3 separate regions of the Homo sapiens genome follow, and all the other regions are reported to be linked to region 3. The links are microRNA targets in miRTarBase. Many come from high-throughput screens and were not tested one by one. Region 3 holds a microRNA gene; each other region holds the end of a gene's coding sequence.

Region 1 (7,544 bases), not on the chromosome of region 3:
AATTGAATGTTGGAGAAAAAGGCTATGAGACAAAATGCAATCTTTCATACATGCATATAGGCACAAAATGATGGCTTGGAATCCAGAATGCCTTCCACATTTTATTTCTGATAACTTCCTTTTTTTCCATACTATTTCATCCATTACATATATTTTTCCCATTTCCATTATCACACTGTGTTCCCACTTCTGTGAACTCTGTATTCTCTGCTCCATTTGAGCACTGTTCAGAAATCATTGAAATATTTCAGTTGTCAGAACTATGTGTTTTCTGGGGGCTTCATTTCTAATCCAGTTCTCCTAATTCCAATTTAGAAGTTTCTTTTCAAATAGTTAAAAAAAAACAAAACAGTGCTTTGCTTTTTTGATGTATTTCAGATTGGGAATCAAGATGGGAAAACAAGGAATTATCAACAAAGAAGGATAATTATGATGAAGATTCACCCCAAACAGTAATAATAGAAAAAGTTGTAAAACAAAGTTATGAATTTTCAAATTCTAAGAAGAATTTGGAATATATAGAGAAGTTGGAAGGGAAGCATGGAAGTCAGGTAGACCATTTCAGACCAGCAATTCTCACCTCTAGAGAAAGCCCCACTGCAGACAGTGTTTACAAATACAATATATTTAGAAGCACCTTTCATTCAAAGTCTACTCTTTCTGAACCACAAAAAATTTCTGCTGAAGGGAATTCACACAAATATGATATATTAAAGAAGAACTTACCAAAAAAGTCAGTTATAAAAAATGAGAAAGTCAATGGTGGAAAGAAACTTTTGAATTCTAATAAAAGTGGGGCAGCCTTCAGCCAGGGCAAATCTCTTACCCTTCCCCAGACTTGTAATAGAGAGAAAATCTATACATGCAGTGAATGTGGGAAAGCCTTTGGCAAACAGTCAATCCTCAATCGCCACTGGAGAATTCATACAGGAGAGAAGCCCTATGAATGTCGTGAATGTGGGAAGACTTTTAGCCATGGCTCATCCCTTACACGACATCTGATAAGCCATAGTGGAGAGAAACCTTACAAATGTATTGAATGTGGGAAGGCCTTTAGCCATGTCTCATCACTTACTAACCATCAGAGCACTCACACTGGAGAGAAACCATATGAATGTATGAACTGTGGAAAGTCTTTTAGTCGTGTGTCCCATCTTATTGAACATCTAAGAATTCATACTCAAGAAAAACTCTATGAGTGTCGTATATGTGGAAAGGCCTTCATTCATAGGTCATCTCTCATTCACCATCAGAAAATCCATACTGGAGAGAAGCCTTATGAATGTAGAGAATGTGGGAAAGCTTTCTGCTGTAGCTCACACCTTACTCGACATCAAAGAATTCACACTATGGAGAAACAATATGAATGCAACAAATGTCTGAAAGTCTTTAGTAGCCTCTCATTTCTTGTTCAGCATCAGAGTATTCATACTGAAGAAAAACCCTTTGAATGTCAGAAATGCAGGAAATCCTTCAACCAGCTTGAATCACTGAATATGCATTTGAGAAATCACATTAGATTGAAACCCTACGAATGCAGTATATGTGGGAAAGCCTTTAGTCATAGGTCATCCCTGCTTCAACATCACAGAATTCATACTGGAGAGAAACCTTATGAATGTATTAAATGTGGGAAGACCTTCAGCTGTAGTTCAAACCTTACCGTACATCAGAGAATTCACACTGGAGAAAAGCCATATAAATGTAATGAGTGTGGGAAAGCTTTTAGCAAAGGCTCAAATCTTACTGCCCATCAAAGAGTACATAATGGAGAGAAACCCAATAGTGTGGTAAGTGTGGAAAAGCCTTTAGACTATATGAATCACTATACATGTGAGAAATCTTACAGAAGAGAAACTGTATGAAGCAGTGGTTATCATGGTAAATTTCCTAGATTCTCCCTTATTTAACATTAGAAAAATTTATACTGGGGAAAGTCTTATGAATGTGGTGAATATAGGAAGACCTTTTAGCAAAGATGCAGGCCAGTTTGTTTATTAGACTTTATACTGTAGAGAAATCATATGAAGACCATAAATGTGGGAAAGCCTTTGTCAGTATTAATCCCTTAATTGACATAAGTATACTCACACTAGGATAAAACCCTGTACATGTAGCAAATGTGGGAAAGACTACAGACAATAGGAATCTTTTACAAACTCCTACAGGAGAGAAGCTGTATGAATGTAGAAAATTTAGAAATTGAGGGAAGTCTTCAGTTCCAAGTATATCCCTTATTCTACAGCAGAGAACTCAAAATGGAGAGAAATCTCATTTAAGAGATGTAGCAAAGTGTTCACTAAGAGTGTTTATCTTGGTACACATCAGAAGATTAATGGTAGAACAACCTGAAGGATTTAGGAGTTATGTGTAAATCTTTGCAGTCATGCTATTTGTAAACTGGATTCTACAGGAGAGCAAATAAACATTATAATAAAATATGCATTTCTTAGAGCAGTAGCTTGCAGTTTCAGTTGAGTTCTACTTAGAAATTCTTTTTAGCTAGTGGGCATGTGAAGATATTTAGTCACCCAGAGGAGCCAGTAAGTGTTATAATATTGAAAATTAAAGCTGCAAAAGAAATAAAGTGATGTTAATAAAAGTTTTGGCATCTAATAAAATCATTTTGTATATCACAAACTCTTTCACTGTGACTATTTCCTGTAAAAAAAATTTCACTAAGATTAGCCTTAGCGTAGCCTTTAGTGGGAGACTAGCAAACCTAGAGAAAAATGACCTGCTCTTTATACTAAGAATAGCAGTATTTTGATGAGGATTATTCAGAGTCAATTTCCAGTAGGCTTAATCAAATACATTTCAAAAAAATTTACTGAGCATCACTCGTGTATTATTACACAGCGATGGGATATAGGAATCCAGTAGTTCTGAGCTTTAGTGGTGTGTCAAAGTCAGTAGGAGGGCTTGTTAAAGCACAGATTGCTAAGTCTGAATCTTAGGGTTTCTGTATGAGTTGATTTGAATTTGCATTTTTCATGCGTTCTTAGGCGACACACTGTCCAGAAAGCACATTTTGATAACCATTGTAATAATGAACAAAACAAATCTGATCTTTTTCTCGCAGGGATGTTATCTGACAAGAAAGATGGATAGCAAATAAATTTGAAATAATGGTTTACAAGTGCTATGAGGACATAACCAAGAAACAACATACTACAAGAGATCAGAGCAGGCTTAGCGAGATGTGATTTTTGAAATGAATCCTAAATGATGAACACTAATTATGTAATGAGTACTACTCATGTAGCCATGTGCATCCCTGCATGTGCCTGTGCGTGTGTGTATGCGGTGTGCTGGGTGTTAATCTAGGTAAAGCAGACAGTCGAGTTCTGTCATACTTGCTGCAGCTGGATTCCACGTTCCCATGTCTAGTTTCAGATTCTGTGGCTTTGAGGTAGTGCTGCTGGCAGCATCATTGCAGCAACCGTCATTTCTCTATCCCTGAGTCATAGTTACGGGAGTTTACCTTGAAATCACTAGCCCAGAAGTGTTCTCATTACTTTTACAGCCCACCTACCAATTTTGAAAGCACTAATTTGCAGCAATATATGTCTTGAAATAGTTAAGAGAGATTTTGTTCTCTGCACTGAACCTTGACAGATAATTATGTTTTGTAAGGAGGCAGGATGGCTTCAAATATTCTAAGTTCTAGATAAGAAATGGAACAGTCTCACTGGCCCTGTGATTAGAATCCTATCTTGTGATTAGAAAGGTAATGCAGATCAATTTGATTTGGAGTGTATGGACACTGATGCAAGTGAAGGGGTGTGATATGGATTATGCTTCAGATTTTGTTCTTTATCTCAGGTGAGAGTAGTAAGATATGTTATTTTAAAAAGGAACATTATGTTATAGTTATGATAATTCTGGTGTGGAATGAGTGATAAGGTTTCTGACTTTCAACAAAATGTATCTCCTCTGATATATGTGCTACCTTAACAGAAAGCCAAAGCACAGAGGCATATTCCAATAGCAATTTGCAAGAGACAGTAGGTTTGGAATGGGGTGGTAAACTTTTACTATTTTGCAGGGATTTTATCTTTCATTTGATTTATTTTTAATCATGAAATTTATATTGAAATTCTGTGAAACATTGAAGGATCTTTGGAAGATTTATAATTAGGGAAGGGCCAGATGTAGTGGCTAATGTCTGTACTCCCAGCACTTTGGGAGACCGAGGCAGGAGGATTGCTTGAGGCCAGGAGTTTGAGACCAGCCTGGGCAATATAGCAAAACTCATTAGTCTGTTAAAAAAAAAAATTACCCAGGTGTAGGCACACATCTGCAGTCCTAGCTATTCAGGAGGCTGAGTGGGGAGGGATTGCTTGAGTACAGGAGTTTTAAGGTCACAGTGAGCTATCATCACACCACTGCTTTCCAGCCTGGACAGCAGAACACCACCCTGTCTCCAAAGTAAATAAATACAATTAAGGAAGCATGATGTGGTATCAGACAGTTGCAAGTATGGATAGACTGGCTACCACATATATACTTATGGGATAATGAGAGTAGCTTTCTTTTCTCTCATTCTGTGTCCTTTCTCTGCTCTCCCAAGCAACTGGTACCACAGAGATGAAGTAGTCCTATAATGCCCAGATTTTGTTTCCACTACACATAGTTTAATGCTACCATGTCACTTTGTTATGAGAGGATTCATCGAAATACCTGTGCTTTGTCATTTAAAAAGCATGGGCATACACATGATAATGCTTTACGTTTCTGGATTTAAAGTGCCTTCACAATACAGAACTAGGAAAAAGAAGGCCATCTTTTTAAATGAAGATAGTTTTAAGAGAGCAATAAGAGACTATTACTTTGTTATGATAGAAGGTTGGGCTGATGTCATAATGATGTTATGATGTCACTGACATCATATTATTTCCTCAGTCATACCTATTAACCATTTCTTGAGCATCCACTATGGGCTTAATAGATAAGAAACACTCCATACCCTTTAAGAGCCCTGAGGTGTGTGTGTGTGAACAGCATTAAACTTTGGAGTCATGTTACCTGGGTTTAAATCCAAGTTGCATGAATACTGGCTTTGTGTGACCTTGGACAAACTATTTCACTGTGTCTTGCCTCAGTTTCTCCATCTGTAAAATGATAATAAAGCTATCTCACAGCATTATTATGAAGATTAAATGCATTAATTGGTGTAAAGTGTTTACAACAATCCCTGGCCTCTCAATAGCATTCAATAAGTATTAGCTATTGATTACATCATCATTGTCTTCTCATGGTTGCTTCATCATTCTGGTCTCAAAGGTCACATCTAATCACTTGTCACTCCCATGTGTTTACTGTTTAACATTTTTAGAGGAGAGCTCTTACAAAACCCCCCGATTAACTTCCAACAAATTCTTGAGTATCTGAGCCATTTTGAGGGAGGGAATGTTTCTTGCCCTAAATAATCTGAGGAGAAACAAAGAGACCAGGTAGGAGATGAGATGGGAACCTAGCAGGTCTATGGGAAGGAAGGAGGGTGCCCTACAGATTTGGAAAACGGGCCGAGTGAAGGAGGCATCAGGCTTCCACATGAAGGAAAGGGGAGGCTCTACCCAGAGACCAGAAGCCTACAGGTCTTCATCATCATCTCTGAATACAGAGTCCTGTGGGCTGGGTGCCACTGCTTTCACTCTTCCTAAATGGAGGTTAGAGCCTGTCATTGAAGGTCACTGATGCCTGGAAAGTCAAACAGTTTCCTTGTTAGCCTTGGGCCAGTCAGATGTGATTAGAGCTCAGTTGTTGGTAAACATCTAGAAAGAAGCAAGGCACATATCACTGAGCACTTCCTGGGAACTTATTTTTTTGCTGCTGAGGGGGAGTCAGTCTTTAAACAAATTGCAATTGTGTTAGAGAAAAAAGCTTTATATGCAAAAGTAATTGATGCAAGATACAAGACAATGACAAGGCCATATGGCCCAAGAGGTGCAGAGTGTAAGCACTCTGGCATCAAAGATAAATAGGGAAAAACTATAATCATAATACAATACTGTTAATAGCAGCAGCAACTGGGCCTTGTGTTTGCACTGTGTGCTGCATTGAGACAATTAAATGTTCTATGCTCTGGATCCAAATTCCTAGGTGTGAATTCAGCCTATTGGGACTGTCGCTTGCTTACTCTATAAACTTGGTGAAGTCACTTCATTTCCCAATTTTTCCATCAAAACAAAAACAATTCCCATCTTACCAGCTGGTTGTAAGAATTAAAAGATTTATAAAGCAAGCAACAAAGTGCCTCTGCATGGAAGTTTGTTGCCGTGTTTTTCCTGCTTTTAATAATCTTCCCACATACTGTAAGGTAAATGCCATAATCATCTTCATGCTAGTGACCTGAGTCTCTCTCAGAGTCACACATCTTAGGAATATAGGCTACATTTGAACATTCAGTAAAAGACCACACAATATTGCCCTCCTAGGACAGATCTCAGAAGACTGGGGTTTCTCTTGGCAACCATACAGGCTCTCTTGGCCTCCCTGAACAAAAAAATGTCTCCTTTGGCCATGCTGTTCCTTCTGCCTAGAATGTGTCCCATACCCCATTTATTACCACGCTTACCTGCCGAGGGAGTCCTGCCTACCTTGCAAAGCTCACTAGGTGTGTCAAAGATGAACAAAGCTGGACATTTATGACAGTGGGGAGAACGGACTTTAATTGGTAATAACTATTGCAATGGGGAAAGGAATTTGGCATGAACTGAACCCAGCTTTGATTTGTACAGAGGTGAATGAGTATGTTAAAGGAAGGGTGAGGAAATAGGGAGGGGGTGGAGAAGAGGGGCTCAGTAGAGTCAGAAAAGTGAAAAATTACAAAACACAGGAAGGGAGGGGGCTGGTCTATGTGCAGTCTATCTGGGTTTGCTACTGGCACTTGAATTAGGATCCTATCCTCCCACAGAGACTGTGAGACAGGGGTCTTATCTTCAGGTGTTGGCTGGAAGAAATTCTTTGGACAGCCTTGAGTTTTTCAGGCCAGCACTTTAAAAGTTATTAGAAAGTGTTAGTGTTGTTCAAGTCTTAATAGGCAAAAGTTGACAGGCCTATTAAAGAAGGCTCAGAGGGGCCTAGCTAGAGTTTGGTGAAAGAAAGAGAAATCTTTGTCAGGTATCACCTCAGGCTTCCCCAGCCCACTGAGGAGGAATGGTGGTGAAGAAGAAGAAAGAACAAAGGCTCAAGGGCTCAACATACAGGATGTGAGTTTCCGCCAAGAGTTGTGTGACCCTGAGAAGATAACTTAAGTTTTCCAAACCTCAGGTTCCTTTTCTGTAAAGCAGGAATAATAGAACCTAACTCTGAGGAAATTGGGATTAAATGAAGTGCTACATAACAAGTTACCCTCAGAACTCAATAAATGTAGTTATTATTGTTACTTAGCCTCTTTGCTTCCACACCACCCTGGAAAACCGAACCAAGTCCTGATCTCTACTTTTGTAAGTGTGCCACATTCTCTGCACAAAGATTCCAGAAGATGAGAAATACTTAATCTAGAGCTAGCAAGGCCAAAGGGAAAAAAAAAAAAGACT
Region 2 (7,401 bases), not on the chromosome of region 3:
AAGTATGTAAGATTAAACTAATATTTAGTACTGAATGTCATAGCATTATATCTTATTCGGAAATGACCTACATATTTAATGAATATTTATCATGTAATTTGCCTTAGCAAAACTCTAAGGATATAGAAACCTTTTATTTTGTTTTATTTTTTGAGAAGGAGTCTCACTCTGTCACCCAGGCTGGAGGGCAGTGGTATGATCTCAGCTCACCGCAACCTCTGCTTCCTGAGTTCAAGCAACTCTCCTGCCTCAGCCTCCCAAGTAAACTGGGATTATAGGCATGTACCACTACACCCAGCCAATTTTTGTATTTTTACTAGAGACGGGGTTTTGCCATGTTGGCCAGGCTGGTCTCGAACTCCTGACCTTAAGTGATCTGCCTGCCTTGGCATCCCAATGTGCTGGGATTACAGCGTGAGCCACTGGGCCCAGCCTAGAAACCTCTTAAAGTAAATATATTATAAAACATAATTATTATGTCAATTTATAAACTTTTTTCCTATTTACATTTATTTTAATTATTCTTTTTTTTTTTTTGAGACGGAGTCACACTCTGTCGCCCAGGCTGGAGTCAGTGGTGCGATCTCGGCTCACTGCAACCTCTACCTCCTGGGTTCAAGCTATTCTCCTGCCTCAGCCTCCCGAGTAGCTGGGACTACAGGTGCACACCACCATGCCTGGCTAATTTTTGTAATTTTAGTAGAGATGGGGTTTCGCCATATTGGCCAGGCTGGTCTCGAACTCCTGACCTCAGGTGATCTGCCCACCTCGGCCTCCCAAAGTGCTGGGATTACAGGCATGAGCCACCGTGCCCAGCCTTATTCTTTCTTAACAACTATGTTTGGAAAAATTTCATGAGCCGTTAGACAAATCTAGCCATCATCTCAACTTAAATTTTGTATTAACCATTTTGCTATTAATATTATCATATGTTATCTAAGTATCATAAAAGCAATCACCTTAACATTAAATACATGCATATTTTGCTGATAAGTCAAAAGACATTTGTTTTTATTAAACCAACTATATTAAACTACTCATATTTACCAAAAGATTTACTCAAGTCACAAGAACTTGAAAAATATTTGGGCTTATTTATTTAATTTTTGATTACTCATTTATTGTTACGGCAATTTGGTACCATGTAGACAATATCCAAACACAAGTATAGACATATGTGTATATGTAGACACAACATATAACTAAAACACATAAACATGTATGCATCTGAAAGTTGAAAAGATCAAGGAATTCAATATAAAAGAAAGTAGAGCTAGGTCGGGCATAGTGGCTCATGCCTGTAATCCCAGCATTTTGGGAGGCCGAGGCAGGAGGGTCACTTGAGGTCAGGAGTTTGAGACCATCCTGGCCAACATGGTGAAACCCCATGTCTACTAAAAATATAAAAATTAGCCTGGCGTGGTGGCATGTGCCTGTAGTCCCAGTTCCCCAGGAGGCTGAGGCAGGAGAATTGATTGAACCCAGGAGGCAGAGGTTGCACTGAGCCAAGATCATGCCACTGCACTCCAGCCTGGGTGACAGAGTGAGACTGTCTCAAAAAAAACAACAAAAAAAGAGTAGCACTTTAGACTGAGAGGAGCCTGTCCACCCACGATTCTTGGGGCTCCGTGAGGAAAAACAGAGGTACCCTACCCAAAAAGGAGGAGTCTGTGATGTCCTTTCTGTGTTCCTGAAGGGTCCTTGGGCTGCTAGAAGTTTTCTTGGTGTCAAAAGTGGCAAGAGGAAGAAGAGACAGTAGTAAATGGAAGAACAAGTCCTAGAGTAGCCACTTTCAGAAGCTCTTGTTTTCCAAATGGCCAGTAAGGTTTTACATTATCCTTGGCAAAAATCATGTCAATGAGAGGAGAAACAGAGGGAGCACATATAGTTAGCAGGAGTTTCGCAAGAAATTCAGTTGACTGAGAAGCTGTTACAGAGAGAACAGAGGACTCAAATAAATGTATGTATACATATATAGCCTAAATATTGGTTTTAATTAAATGTACTTTCGACTATACAGCTCTTAAAATATTTTTATCAGGTTTTAGCTGGGTTAATAGCAAACATTCCTGTTTCCTGGTTTTTTCTTTCTGAAATTTACACCAATGGTGGGGTGTATTTGTTTATTAGAGGTCTAGAGGAATCACTATTTAAAGCTGTTTGTGTCTGAAACCCAAGTTTCAGAACTGTAACACTAGCACTTGTAGTCTGTATCTTTCATTTGACAAGTGGTCATTCCTAGTGATAGTTCTTTAATTGTTTCATTGAACTTTGCTACTTCTTATTTTTTTTGAGACAGAGTCTCACTCTGTCACTCAGGCAGGAGTGCAGTGATGTGATCCCGGCTCCTGAACTGCAACTTTGAACTCCTGGGCTCAGGTAGTTCTCCCACCTCAGCCTCCAAAGTAGCTGGGACTGCAGGTGCACACCACAACACCCAGCTAACTTTTTAAACTTTTTTGTAGAGACAGGGTCTCACTATGTTACCTAGGCTGGTCTCAAACTCCTGGGCTCAAGCCTCAGCCTCCCAAAGTGCTGACATTACAGGCGTGAGTCACCACACCCAGCCCTACTTCTTTCATATTATTAATTACACCTTTTTTTGTTTGTTTTTGATATGGAGTCTTGCTCTGTCGCCCAGGCTGGAGTGCAGTGGCATGATCTCGACTCACTGCAGCCTCTGCCTGCTGGGTTCCAGCAATTCTCCTGCCTCAGCCTCCCAGGTAGCTGGGATTACAGGCACATGCCACCACACCTGGCTAATGGTTGTATTTTTAGTAGAGATGGGGTTTCACCATGTTGACCAAGCTGGTCTCGAACTCCTGACTTCAGGTGATCCAGCCACCTTGGCCTCCCAAAGTGCCGGGATTACAGGCGTGAGCCACCATGGCAGGCTCTAGCTTCATTTAAACACGTCAGGAGTCATTTCCCTTGGCTTTGTTATCACTCTTCCTGCACTGGAGTAGTAGGTTACTTATGCATGCAGGCTGCTTGAGGGCAGGGGTTTTGCATTAGCCTGCCTTGCTCCTATAGAAGCCCAGTCCACATTTGTTGATTGGAAAAGGACCGAGTAAAAGATTATATACTGTGAAGTCTTTATAGATAGTAATTGACCAGAATGCTGTATAAAAGGAAATAACGAGAGAGGTTCAGGACAAGTATTTGAAATTCACTGGAATATTTTGCCCTTAAATATGTTGAGACCGGGTGTGCGATTTTAATATGCATAAGAATCTACTGAGAAGCTTATCTAAAAAGGGAGATTTACTGGTCCCATTCTCAATTCTCTAGGTTTTAAGTAGGCCCAAGTATCTGCATTCAAAATAATTTTGGATACAAGTTTTAAATTGAAAAAGCATTATGTACATAAGGAAAAAAAAATCAGACCTACCTTAGTCCCCAGATTTTCTTCCCTGGAGCCAACAACTATTAATGTTTTCTTATGTTTCCTTATGTTTCTTCCCAGCAATTGTCAATTCATGTCTAAGCCTATTATATATATGAATGACTTTTTTTTTGTAATGAAAACATATAATTGGGGGCATATTAAACATATTGCTTTATCTTGCTTTTTTTTTTTTCTTTTTTTCTTGAGACAGAGTCTTGCTCTGTCACCCAGGCTGGAGTGCAATGGCACAACCCAACTCCTGGGTTCAAATGACTCTTCTGCCTCAGCCTCCTGAGTAGCTGGGATTACAGGTGCCCACCACCACGCCCAGCTAATTTTTGTATTTTTAGTAGAGATGGGGTTTCGCCATATTGCCCAGGCTGGTCTCAAACTCCTCAGCTCAAAGTGATCCATCCGCCTTGGCCTCCCAAAGTGCTGGGATTACAGGCATGAACCACCACGCCCAGCCTATCTTGCTTTTTTTTTTTTTTTTTTTTTTTAAAAGCACTATATCTTCAGGCTGTTTCCTAATTCTACATATAGATCTGCCTTTTTTGTTTAATAATTCTATAAATTCCGCTGTATTATTGTCTATACTTTAAAATACTTTATACTGTATTTTAACAGTTGTACTATACTTTAACGGTTATCTATTGGTAGACATTTAAATTCTTTCCAGTCTTTTTTTTTTAATTTTTTTTATTTGAGAAGGAGTCTTGCTGTGTCGCCAGGCTGGAGTGCAGGGGCGCGATCTCAGCTCAGTGCAACCTCCACCTCCCGGGTTCAAGCGATTCCCTTACCTCAGCCTCTCAAGTAGCTGGGACTACAGCCGCCCGCCACCACACCAGGCTAATTTTTTGTATTTTAGTAGAGACGGGGTTTCACCATGTTGGCCAGGATGGTCTCAATCTCCTGACCTCGTGAACCGCCTGCACCCGGCCCAGTCTTTTATATAACAAACCATAAACAAAAAATCCTTACATATTAGTCTGTGTTCACATGTAGAAAATGATGTTAGAAATACAATTGCTGGATTCAAAGATGTGTGCATTTTAAATTTAATACTTAGACTCAGCACTTTTCATAATCATTCTAGGTGATTCTGTCCATGTGGTTTGTGAATATACCTAGAGAAATAGTTTTTCAGGGGAAAGAATGAAACAAATAATTACCACCTACATTTTAGGATTATTCTCTTCGAGGCCAACAAAATAGAAATTTTATACAAAAACTCACTGACCGTCTTCAAAGAGGACAACATTTATTTAGTTGTATGTAAATAAAAATTACTTGGATACATGAGGGGAAAACGATAAAGCACATGATATAAATATACAATTAACCCTTTATAATATCTTCAAACAACGGCAAATAACATAAACAGGAAATATTTGCAGTAATTCTTTACAGTATTCTCTTTTACTCTGTTGTCAACATGAATACTGCAAGCAGGTCTTTATTTTTTTTGACAATGGGAACTTCCACTCATTCGGTAGAAGTCACCACTTTCAAAACATAGTAAGTCAACACACAACTGTACAAACTGAACGTGAGCAAGTCTAACTTAGATGTAATTAGAGTTGAGTCATTGGATAAAAAGTTCATATTGATGATACACAACCAGCAGTGCAAGCATTCAAATACATTGGCTATAGCACCATTTAAAATATTTAACACTGCCTCTTGTTAGTTTGATGTTGTCGGAAAATGAAAGTAATGAAGCAATGTAGTTTTTAAAACATACAACATGTGTTTCAATCTAATCATCCTAATTCTATGGTAAATTACACAGAGAGAGATAGAGGAGGGAGCATTGCCTCAGCTTTAAGATTATCTTTATCAAAATAGAGAGCTGGATTCTTTAACAGCAGCCAAAGCTGTAATGATAACACATAGGTTGTTGTGTTGAACCAAATGGAGTATGACATGCAATCTATTGTCTATAATAATTTACAGGCAATTCCCGAGTCATTGGAGGTAATATTAAGTATATATATTAACCATGCTTTTGTCTCTCCTTTCCATTAGCTGCCTTTTATTATTTTGGTGGTCCTTTCATTACACAACCACTCCCACTATACATTAGAGCAGGAAATAATGGAGATGGAACAAAAAGAGAACTTGTCCATTGAATCACTTGTTAACAGCTCAGAAGGGCATGGTTGAGTATAACTGAAACTGCTGGCTAAAATTACGCTTGGGGTGGCATTGTTTGATTCCAATTCCTAGTAGCATTCCTGCGTCTAATTGTGAAGGATAATTGAGAATGGGCTGTATTCACTTTAGGTAAATTTGACCTAAGACACTGGCAATGATATTCAAGGATTTGTGTGTGTGTGATGATCAAATTGTGAGTAGAAATTTAAATAGTCTTAAACTATCTGTAAACAAGTAAGGCAGCCAGAAATTTCAAATGATCTGGGAAGAACATTCTGCAGTCTGAAAAACGTTTGGCTTAGAAAAATAGACATCTCAGATAAAGAAAGGGCATTATTAGATGTCATGGATCACAGTCATCTTCTGTATGAAATCAATCAAGAGAACTATTTTTAAAACTGTGCCACGCTCAGGCAAATGAATGGTCTATATAACAACACGAGAGTCTAGAGATGGGCTATTTGTTATCACTACTCCAGTGTCAGATGTGGCACAGACATCTACACTAATGGCATTCCATTTATTATCCTCACAAATTGATAGTGTTATACTTTGGATTAGCAACATTCCTTGGAGATGATTTAACTATTAACTTTATTTGTCAGTTAGCAATTAGTTCTATATTATATTTTTGGGCAGAAGAAACTCAGAAAAAAATATTACAGGCCCCACCTCATGCTTATATCATCTAAGAGGCCAATGATACGAATAAAAGTGCTTGAATTGTAGCCCTTGATTTAATGTTGTGCGTACAAATACGGCTTCTGCTAAGGAAATCATTACTGTTATTTCTTTGTTAAGGTTTTGTCTCAAGATTCCATTTATAACTGGATAGCACTGAATTAGGATTAATGGCAAGTGCCTTCTTTTAGAGGAGGATTTAGGAGTCACAATCCCTAGCTGCAGAATTCCCTCATAAAAATACAAGCCGTGTTTCTTTAATTGCACTAAATTGTATTACCTGTGGAATTAGAGCTTGCCTTTGTTTGATGCTAGTAGATCAATAGCTCCCTGTAATAATTAATTTCTGAAATCTAGTCATATTCTTGTGCTTGAAACCCATTTATCTGTAAGCTTTCTGGAAGCACACAGATACTTCAGTTTTGTCTTACAAAGAAGTGGTTGAGTTGAAAAGCTTTTATTCCCTGTTTTTGTTTTTAAAAGCTGTATTTAAAACCCTAGTCCCAGTAGATGACAAGAGAATGGTTTTTATAAGGGCATTTCTACCAATTACTTACTAGGCTGTCTTTGAACAACACTGTCATCTCTAGAATGTATGTAGTCCTTAAGATCTTCCAGCATTACATCTCCCCAAACAGAGAGGCAGTGCTGCTTACAAATGAGGCTGTGACAATGGCATTTACAAATGACAGTGCCAGTTACCGTACAAAATGCTTTCCCACGTCCTGTCATAGGTGCCTCACAGCAACCATGCGAGGTAGGCATGAGTATTACAATGAAACCTACACGGAACATTACATGATACTAAACATGTGCACCATCCATGTATTTTCTTCTGGATTGTTCTATAATTCGAATGCACGGCTGAATAAGTAAAAAGAGTATTCCTATCATGTAAAGCAAACCACATATGTAGAAGGAAAAATCATATTTTTGCGTGATGTCATAGATCCACCCTACAAAACAAAAAAGAATATATTCAGTGTCATGGAGTTGATACAATGAAAGTGAAGAACATGAAGCAGGCATTTATTGCTGCTGTACATGTTTCTACAAGAATTTATATGTCATTTCATACCAATAAAATGTTTCATTTATCCATTTCTTTTCCTTTTTTTTTTTGTTTTTTATATTTTTTGGTTCTCATTTAGCCATTTTAAAGGGTGTGCTGTACA
Region 3 (7,544 bases):
CAGGGTTGGGGCAGGGAGGTGTTCACATCCTGCAAAGAAAGCACACGTACTGGCATTGACCTTCCATTCCCGTACCTCAGTCTCAGGGCCCAGGCAGCCCTGGCACCAAAGTCAAAACCCTGACATTGGAACCATGCTCAGAAAGACTTCTAAGGCAGGTTCCATTAAAAATATATGAAAGCTTCCTCCACGGATTCCTGAAAGACGGGATTTGATGACGAGAACCAGCAGAATGCATGTCAGAGATAAGCAAAGCCATCATGAAGAATTCTGTTTCCGATAAAATGGGGTGTCACTGATCCCTGAAGACAGGGTCCCTACCGCAGAGATGGTCTCAGTTCCTGGAATTTCCTCCCGATGACTGCTTGGAAACGGAGGGTCACAGAATTCCAGGGCCCAGCACATCAATAATGAATAAGCGTGCCGTTGACCTGCACCCGACAATCTTGCAGCAGCTTGACACCGGCGGCCCCTCCCTGAAGCAGGTCTTGTATCTGGGAAGCCCTTTGAGGCATGATTTGATTTTAAAGAAAAGTAATCTCATGCTATTTACGCATGTGAAAGTGAACCCTTGTTCACAAACCAAAACATGGCACGTTGATTCTGGGCCGTTCTCCCACGATGGACGGTATATGGCATGTGGGGAGACAGGCGACACATATCACAGGGAAAGCACCTGGTCTCCAGCCCCAAACCACTGTGAGTGTTGTCCACAGACCGGCGGTATTAGCATCACTTGAGAACTTGCTAAAAATGCAGAATCTTGGTCCCTGAATCAGAATCTGCTTTTTAACAAGATCCCTAGGTGATGAAAATCTTAGGAGCATTTTTAAAGTTTGAGAAACACTACTCTAGCCAACTATTCATATGCACACGCACACAAACACACACACACACACACACACACCCCAGAGGTGCTGTCGACCACAACGTCTTATTCCATGAGAGTCTGTCTAAGATGGGGTGGTTCCCAAGGAAGGCACGAAGCCATGCCACGTCCACCAAGAATAATCCAAATACCCAACAGGCAGCTGCTTAGGAGCTGCCAAAAAGTAGTAATAGTAACAGGAAATGTACGGAGTTTTTACTAATGTTTGCATTCCCTACAGGAAGTGTTTCATACTCAGAATGAAGGCTACAGATAGGAGAGGCTGGACCCAGGTTCCCCGGTCCACCATCTACCTAGAGAGAGGCTTGACCCCGGCATCTCTCCAAGGAATTCCTCGTGGCTAAGATTTAATAACAAGAAGAGAAAGAGAGATGAAATAATTGTGAACATCTTCCAATAAAAAGATATGGCACCAAGCCCCTAAATGGCATCTCCACCCCAAAGCTAGCATTTGTCCAAGGAAATCACACTGGTGGCTTGCATTCTGAGATCACTGGATTCATCATTATAAATCATCAACACAGTCACACTCCATGGTGGGGCAGGCACCAATGTCCCCTCACTGAAGTCAGCACTGTGCTTTCAAAAACTTCTGAAGCAAATTTGGATACTAAAACAATGGTTGTCCGATATTAATCATCATAAATATAGAGACCATACTACGGACAGCCATTCTTTAAGCACCAAAGAACTGTGCCATCAAGAAGAGCTGGGCATCTTCTCCAAAGTTGGTGTCTCTTCCAGAAAGTTCTTCTCAGGTAGTCCAAACAATGAGGATTAGCAGGTCAGCTTCACACATTGAGAGTCAAGCCCATGCCTGGGGGTCAGTCACACTCTTGGGCAGGGGAAGGGGGTCTGGCCCCAATGATCGGTCCCTAAGGTTTGCTTCATGTCCAAGAAGTGCCTCCAAGAAGCAGGATTTGATAAGTAGCTTGAATGCTGCGTCACCCACAACACACACCCATGGCCAATGCAAATCCCTGATAGCACCAAGGAGTCCCGTGGCCCCCTGCCAAGCGTGGCCCCGCCTCCAGGGTTCTGAGGTTAGGGCACAAGTGTCCCCACCACAAACCAACTGCATGCGCCCTCATCCCCACCCAGGCGTGAGCCCCTGGGAAGGGCTGATGCGTGCATCCCTTTACAGAACTTGTCATGGCGTCCAGGAAGTCTGCCGAGGCAAGATTTGATACTCAAAAAGAAATTGTCCTTGTATGATTCATCATAAATAAAGCGAACACACCAAGGATAATTTCTCCTCAAGTATGAAACAGCAGCACGGACCACCACCTCCAGGTCTTTGGCTCAAGGTTAGATGGTGACTGCTTCGTGGCAAACCCAGTCACACACTCGCTCATGCACACACACCACGCACACACAGGCATGCACAATGCATGCACCAAGTTTGACCTCTCTTTAAGCACCAGGGAAGCAAGATGCCATAGAATCCTCACTCAGCTTGGCATCCTCGCTCAAGACTCCTTCAAAGCGTAGATAGTGGCCGAGGTCAAGAACCCAGGGACTGTCTCTCTTAAGTGGAGCAAATGTTCTCGGCACCCCTGCTGACCCCCACTGCATGTGGCATTCTGTATCAAAAGCCACTGTGTGAATGGCTTAGCTGCCAAGCATCAAGAGCATCACTAGCCCCCATTGTAAACACCGTGTATGCTCTGGGCTTCCTAGTCCATTCCATACCCGATGAAGGACTTGACTTCCATGTTTTGACACTGTTCCAAAAACCCATGGAGAGATTTTAGTCATAAAACCACCACCACCACCACCACCACCACCACCAATGATAGTTTCACAGCACACAAGGGTCCTGGCTACCACCTACGAAGTGCCGACCACGGGGCTCTGCTCTGAGCCGTGTACAAGTCTTAACTCGTTCAGCCCCAGCAGCCCCAAGAAATGGACGCCAATGTGATTCCCCTTTGACATGTGAGACAATGGGCACAGCACGATGAGATCCTTGCCCAAGGTTGGACGGTTAGTAAATGTCAGAGGTGGGATCCAAACACAGGAAATCGAGCTCCAGAGTCTGCGCTCTTGATACTGAAAAAGTGGATGACCCTGTACGATTCGACATGAGCAAAACGAACAGGACAGGGATAACCACTCTCCAAGTACCAAAGGTTAGCACGGAAAAGAAAGCCACTGCCTTGGGTGGACTTGGTACGTCTTCAAGGCGCGGTCCTGGGGATGAATTAGATGCTGAGGGTTAGTGGACCGGGTCACATACCCCAAGCAGAACATGCACACTCACGGACCGAGTAACAGCAGGGACCACAAAGCCACTACCCCACACGAGCGCCACCCCAGCCATCGGCCCGGGCTGATGACTTCCCGCTCAGGAAGCAGGGACCCAGACCACACACATCGTGCATGCTTTTGGCCCCGCCCACACTGCACCAGGAGAGGGGATGTCCCAGAGGCCACTGCCTTCCCTAAAGTCATCCAGGTGCCCGTGAAGTCCTCTCTGTGAAGTGGGGACCCGTGAACGATTTGCCACACACAAAACGGATACACACGGTCATGCACACACATACCGCATCCCTTGCTGAGTGTGGACTGGGTCCAAGACAAGGTTTGATACTCACAGAGAGCTTGCCCTTGTATATTCCATGTCAATAAACCGAATATACAAAGGGCAACCTCGCTTTAAGTACCAAACAATAGCACTGGGCAGGTTCCTCACTATCATTCACGGGGCCGGCCTCCTCTCCCGGGGTTCATCCTGGCGGGGGAGGGGGTGGGAGATGCGGGATCAGCAGACCAGGTGGCAAACACCACCTGCCAGCTGTGTGCCCATAGGTCAGCTCTCCATCCCAAAGGGGCCAGGAAGGGGCAGACGCCAGTGCCCCTTCACCAGAATCAGCCTCTTTTCCAGGCATCACTCCAGATTAGAACTTGTTCCTGAAAAGGAGATCCACCCCACGGGCCTTCCTGGGCACACGCAGAGCTCAGCTTCTCACTTTCTATAGGAATTCCCTGGGGTGGGACCACCATCTCCTTCCCAGTGTGGGCACCTCTCCAGGAAGTTTTCCTAAGGATGCACTCAGCACCGAGGTCCCAGGCACTGGATGAATTTACACCTTAGACAAAGCAAAGGCCCTGTGGTCACCATCCCTTCATCCATCTCACAGAGCCGTTGACACCAGTGTCATTCTCCATGCCAGCCCTTGCCCCACCCCTGCCAGAGGCTGGCATCGTGGCCATGAAGCCATGCTAAGAAAGAGCACAGGGTCAACAGTAGTAAACCCCACGTACCCCCAAGTAACTGAGGAAGCAGACCCACAGCCCATTCCCCACAGTGGTCTCTCCTTCAAGAAGGGGAGAGGAGCGGGAGCCGCCTGGTCCAGGTGGCAGGTTATGTGACTCATTACCCAGGCGTGGTGCTCACCTCTCTTCAGCTGGACGTTCGCTTTCCTTGGGCTGAGGATGCTGCGAATGTCCTTCCTGAAGCTGGCTTCGGGTCCAGATGACCCCCATGGCAGTCGGGGTGTAAAAAGCCGGCAGTCACACGGCCCAAGGAGTGTCTCCACAAACACAGAACAAGAGTCCCATTCTCAGGCAGCCATCCTAGGTGTGAGCAGAAAGCCAGCAGTCAGAGACGGGGCACAGACATCGAGGCAGAAGCAGGCGCCCTCTGACCTCCCACATGCACGCACCTGGTGCGGGGCTGACAGCTCCCACGGCTCATCCCCAGCGCTGCCTTCATGGGCAATCACAAATGACAAATAGAAGCAAACCATTCTTACAGATTCAGCCTGGGGACTGCGAGCTGGATCATGAACACCCAAGCATCAAAAAAAAAAAGCGCTGATGAGCACACCTCAGCCCCTTCCCCAAGGTCAATACCACCTCCAGGAAGCCCTCCTGGGGCTGGCCTACCAGGCTCGAAAACAGCATAGACAGAGCCAGTGCTCCGTGGTCCACCATCACTGCTGTCTGTGTTCCCCTTGAAATGATCCAACATCCAGGTCCCCCTTCTAAGGCTGATGCTGGGAACAGGAAGCCTTCTGTGTATGACTTGGTACCAAGAAGAGGCAGATCAATGTGTGATTTATCCTTAAAAAAGCAAACCACCATTAAACTTGGAGCACACAAAAAGGTCCCTCCTCTCCCACTGCTTCCAGGGAGTCCACAGGAAGAACCAGCATAGAGGGCGAAGGCAGAACCCAGGGGCAGCGTCACAGCCAACCTCACGTTCCCGGACATGGAAGCCAGGCCATACCTGAGAGGGGCTGACATCCGAGGCTTTGTCCTGGAGACAAGCAGGGTATGAGTGTCTTCTCCGACAGTTTGATACGCAAATGAGAGTCTCCCCCTGTATATTCGCCATTAATCAAGTGAACATACAAAGGGTATCCTCTCTTTAAGTACCAAAGGGTGGCTCAAAGAGCAGGTGAGGACCATGCCGGGTCTTTGCCGGAGTGGACATCTCCTCCTGCGAGGCCTGAGACCAAGGGGGAGGGGCCCGGTGACAAGCCTCATCTGGCTGACCCTGGAGCTGGGCCTGCACCTTGCACATTGTGGCCTGGCCCCGAAAGGTGGCACATCCAGGACTCCCTGCAGGCGAGACTGGCTTCTAAACAAGGGAACAGGTAGGCATGACTATCAGTGTGCTCAGCATGCATGGGTGAACCTGCTTCAAATACCCACAAGCTACATGGACAATGGAACCATCACCTTTCTCCAAAGGGGCACAGGGTGTGAGGGCTCAGCCCGGCAAGACATGGAGTTATCAGAGAAGAAGGCATCTGCAGGCATTCTCAGAGCTGGAGAGCGCTGAGACAATGTCTCTCCTCTGAGGCTGGTTGTCCTAGAGATGACCAGATCCAAGAATGTGTCACCTGTACCTACCTCGAAACAAACAAAAAGAGGGCCCCAGCGTCAGACTCTAGCGACAAAGGAGTCCTGAAGACCAGACACACCTGCCCAAGGCACACTCAGGTGCAATCACTGGACAATGTGCTCCGAGGACTGGCCATTGGAGTCCAGCGACAGTCCCAGAGGGCACAGGCAGGCTCAGGGAGCTCCACCAGTAACTTGCCTTAGAACAACCTGACATCCATGTGCTTCCCTCAAGGCTGACACTCTCTCAAGGATGGAGACCACCAGGGAGTGGCAGGTCAGGGGAGTAGCAGGTGAGAAGCAGCATCAGCTCTGCGCTCCACCATCCACCACCCATTCGTGTGTCCGGAGAGGTGCGAGGTTAGTGCTGGACGCAGGAAGCCCTCTGGGTATGACTTGGTATGGAGAAGAGGCAGATCCATGTGATTTATCCTTAAAAAAAGCAAACCACCATTAAACTCAGTGCACACAAAAAGGACCCTCCTCTCCCACTGCCTCCAGGGAGTCCACAGGAAGAACCAGCACAGAGAGCGAAGGCAGAACCCAAGGGCTAGGATCACAGCCAAGCTCACGTTCCCAGACAGGGAAGCCAAGCCGTACCTGAGAGGGGCTGACATCCGAGGCTTTGTCCTGGAGACAGCAGGGTCTGAGCGTCTTCCTCGACAGAGTTTGATACGCAAATAAGAGTCTCCCCCTGTATATTCGCCATTAATCAAGTGAACATACAAAGGGTATCCTCTCTTCAAGTACCAAAGAGTGGCTCAAAGAGCAGGTGAGGACTATGCCGGGTCTTCGCCGGAGTGGACATCTCCTCCTGCGAGGCCTGAGACCAAGGGGGAGGGGCCAGGTGACAAGCCTCATCTGGCTGGCCCTGGAGCTGGGGCCTGCCATACAGTTGACTTTACTTCCCAGCATCTCTTCACGACAGGATTGGTTACCAAAAGACAGGCAATCCTGTACCATTTGAAATAATGTAAATGTAAAATGGCTGAAATCCCTTTAGGGCCTGCAAAAACACCCTGGGAGAAGAACCTCTGCCTCTGCCCAAAGCCACTGCCTCCAGGAAGCCCTCCTGGTGAACACTGGCTAAGGGAGGTTAGAAGATGCAGTCACATGCATCATTAAAGAAAAAAGAGAAACAGAAATCCAACGCACTCCGTTTGCAAATCACAAAGCAGCACTATGACAAGTGTCCCTTCTCCTGAATTTGGCATTGTATTCAGAAAGCCATCTGAGCAGTTAGTTGTTACTCAGAAGTATTCATCTAGGGCAAGATTCGTCAAAGGAAAATGAGATTCTCATGGGCCAACTCTCTCTGAATAAACACATGCTAACACCAGGAATCCAAGGGTCTTTCCATTGGCAAGAATCCCTAAAGGACACCAATGGACTAAGAGAGCAGTGGGGCTTAGAGGTCCCAGCAGCAAGTCCTGTAGCCACACTGGGTGCTCTGGGGCCTCCTTCCTGTGGACTGGCCTTCCCTCAAGTGGACAGTGAGGTCCAAAAGTCACTCCAAGGATGGGCTAGGTATGGAGAGTGGGTAGACCAGATGACCCACATCTACATTAGACATTGACTTTGCTGACGGTCATTCTTTCATGTATCTGGGAGATGCACTGACCACGAGACCTCTTCTCAGAGGCTGGCATCATGCTGGGCAGACCTGCCGGAGTAGCAGCCCATGGATGCTTTGTGATAAGTAGGGCCCATCAAGGGAGGCCCTTTGTTCTTTTCTTTTTTTTTTAACCTATTGTGTTGAGACAGGGGTCTCTGTCAGCCAGGCTGAAGTGCAGTGGCACAA

Evidence for each region. Region 3 holds the annotated microRNA hsa-miR-381-3p (UAUACAAGGGCAAGCUCUCUGU, at 3,485-3,506, opposite strand). A microRNA usually pairs through its seed, bases 2 to 8, with sites in the 3' UTR of a target mRNA and lowers its output. Matches are read on the target gene's strand: a 7mer-m8 pairs with bases 2 to 8, a 7mer-A1 pairs with bases 2 to 7 and ends in A, and an 8mer does both.
Region 1: miRTarBase lists ZNF181 as a target of hsa-miR-381-3p. Seed matches in the 3' UTR shown: 7mer-A1 at 2,627-2,633.
Region 2: the mRNA of SLC16A14 is a reported target of hsa-miR-381-3p. Seed matches in the 3' UTR shown: 7mer-m8 at 6,467-6,473 and 7mer-A1 at 4,720-4,726.

What each region holds. Positions count from the first base shown.
Region 1 is chr19:34,740,233-34,747,776 of GRCh38, forward strand. ZNF181 (zinc finger protein 181) reads left to right here. Exons shown (of 4, transcript NM_001029997.4): 4 at 379-5,146. The coding sequence ends at 1,865. LOC124904698 (a long non-coding RNA gene) reads right to left here. Exons shown (of 2, transcript XR_007067235.1): 2 at 6,652-7,544. Among named protein-coding and RNA genes, the nearest start is that of ZNF181, 9.8 kb to the left of the region's middle.
Region 2 is chr2:230,030,350-230,037,750 of GRCh38, forward strand. It overlaps SLC16A14 (solute carrier family 16 member 14), which reads right to left. Exons shown (of 5, transcript NM_152527.5): 5 at 4,633-7,182. The coding sequence ends at 7,031. The region is part of intron 1 of LOC107985996 (a long non-coding RNA gene); the gene reads left to right. Among named protein-coding and RNA genes, the nearest start is that of SLC16A14, 35 kb to the right of the region's middle.
Region 3 is chr14:101,041,930-101,049,473 of GRCh38, reverse strand. MIR381 (microRNA 381) reads right to left here and starts at 3,554; the gene lies at 3,480-3,554. It overlaps MIR1185-2 (microRNA 1185-2), which reads right to left and starts at 5,276; the gene lies at 5,191-5,276. MIR381HG (MIR381 host gene) reads right to left here and starts at 4,317. Exons shown (of 3, transcript NR_104192.1): 1 at 4,290-4,317. It overlaps MIR487B (microRNA 487b), which reads right to left and starts at 3,019; the gene lies at 2,936-3,019. It also overlaps MIR539, MIR889, MIR1185-1 and MIR544A. RefSeq lists enhancers at 2,708-3,208, 3,209-3,709.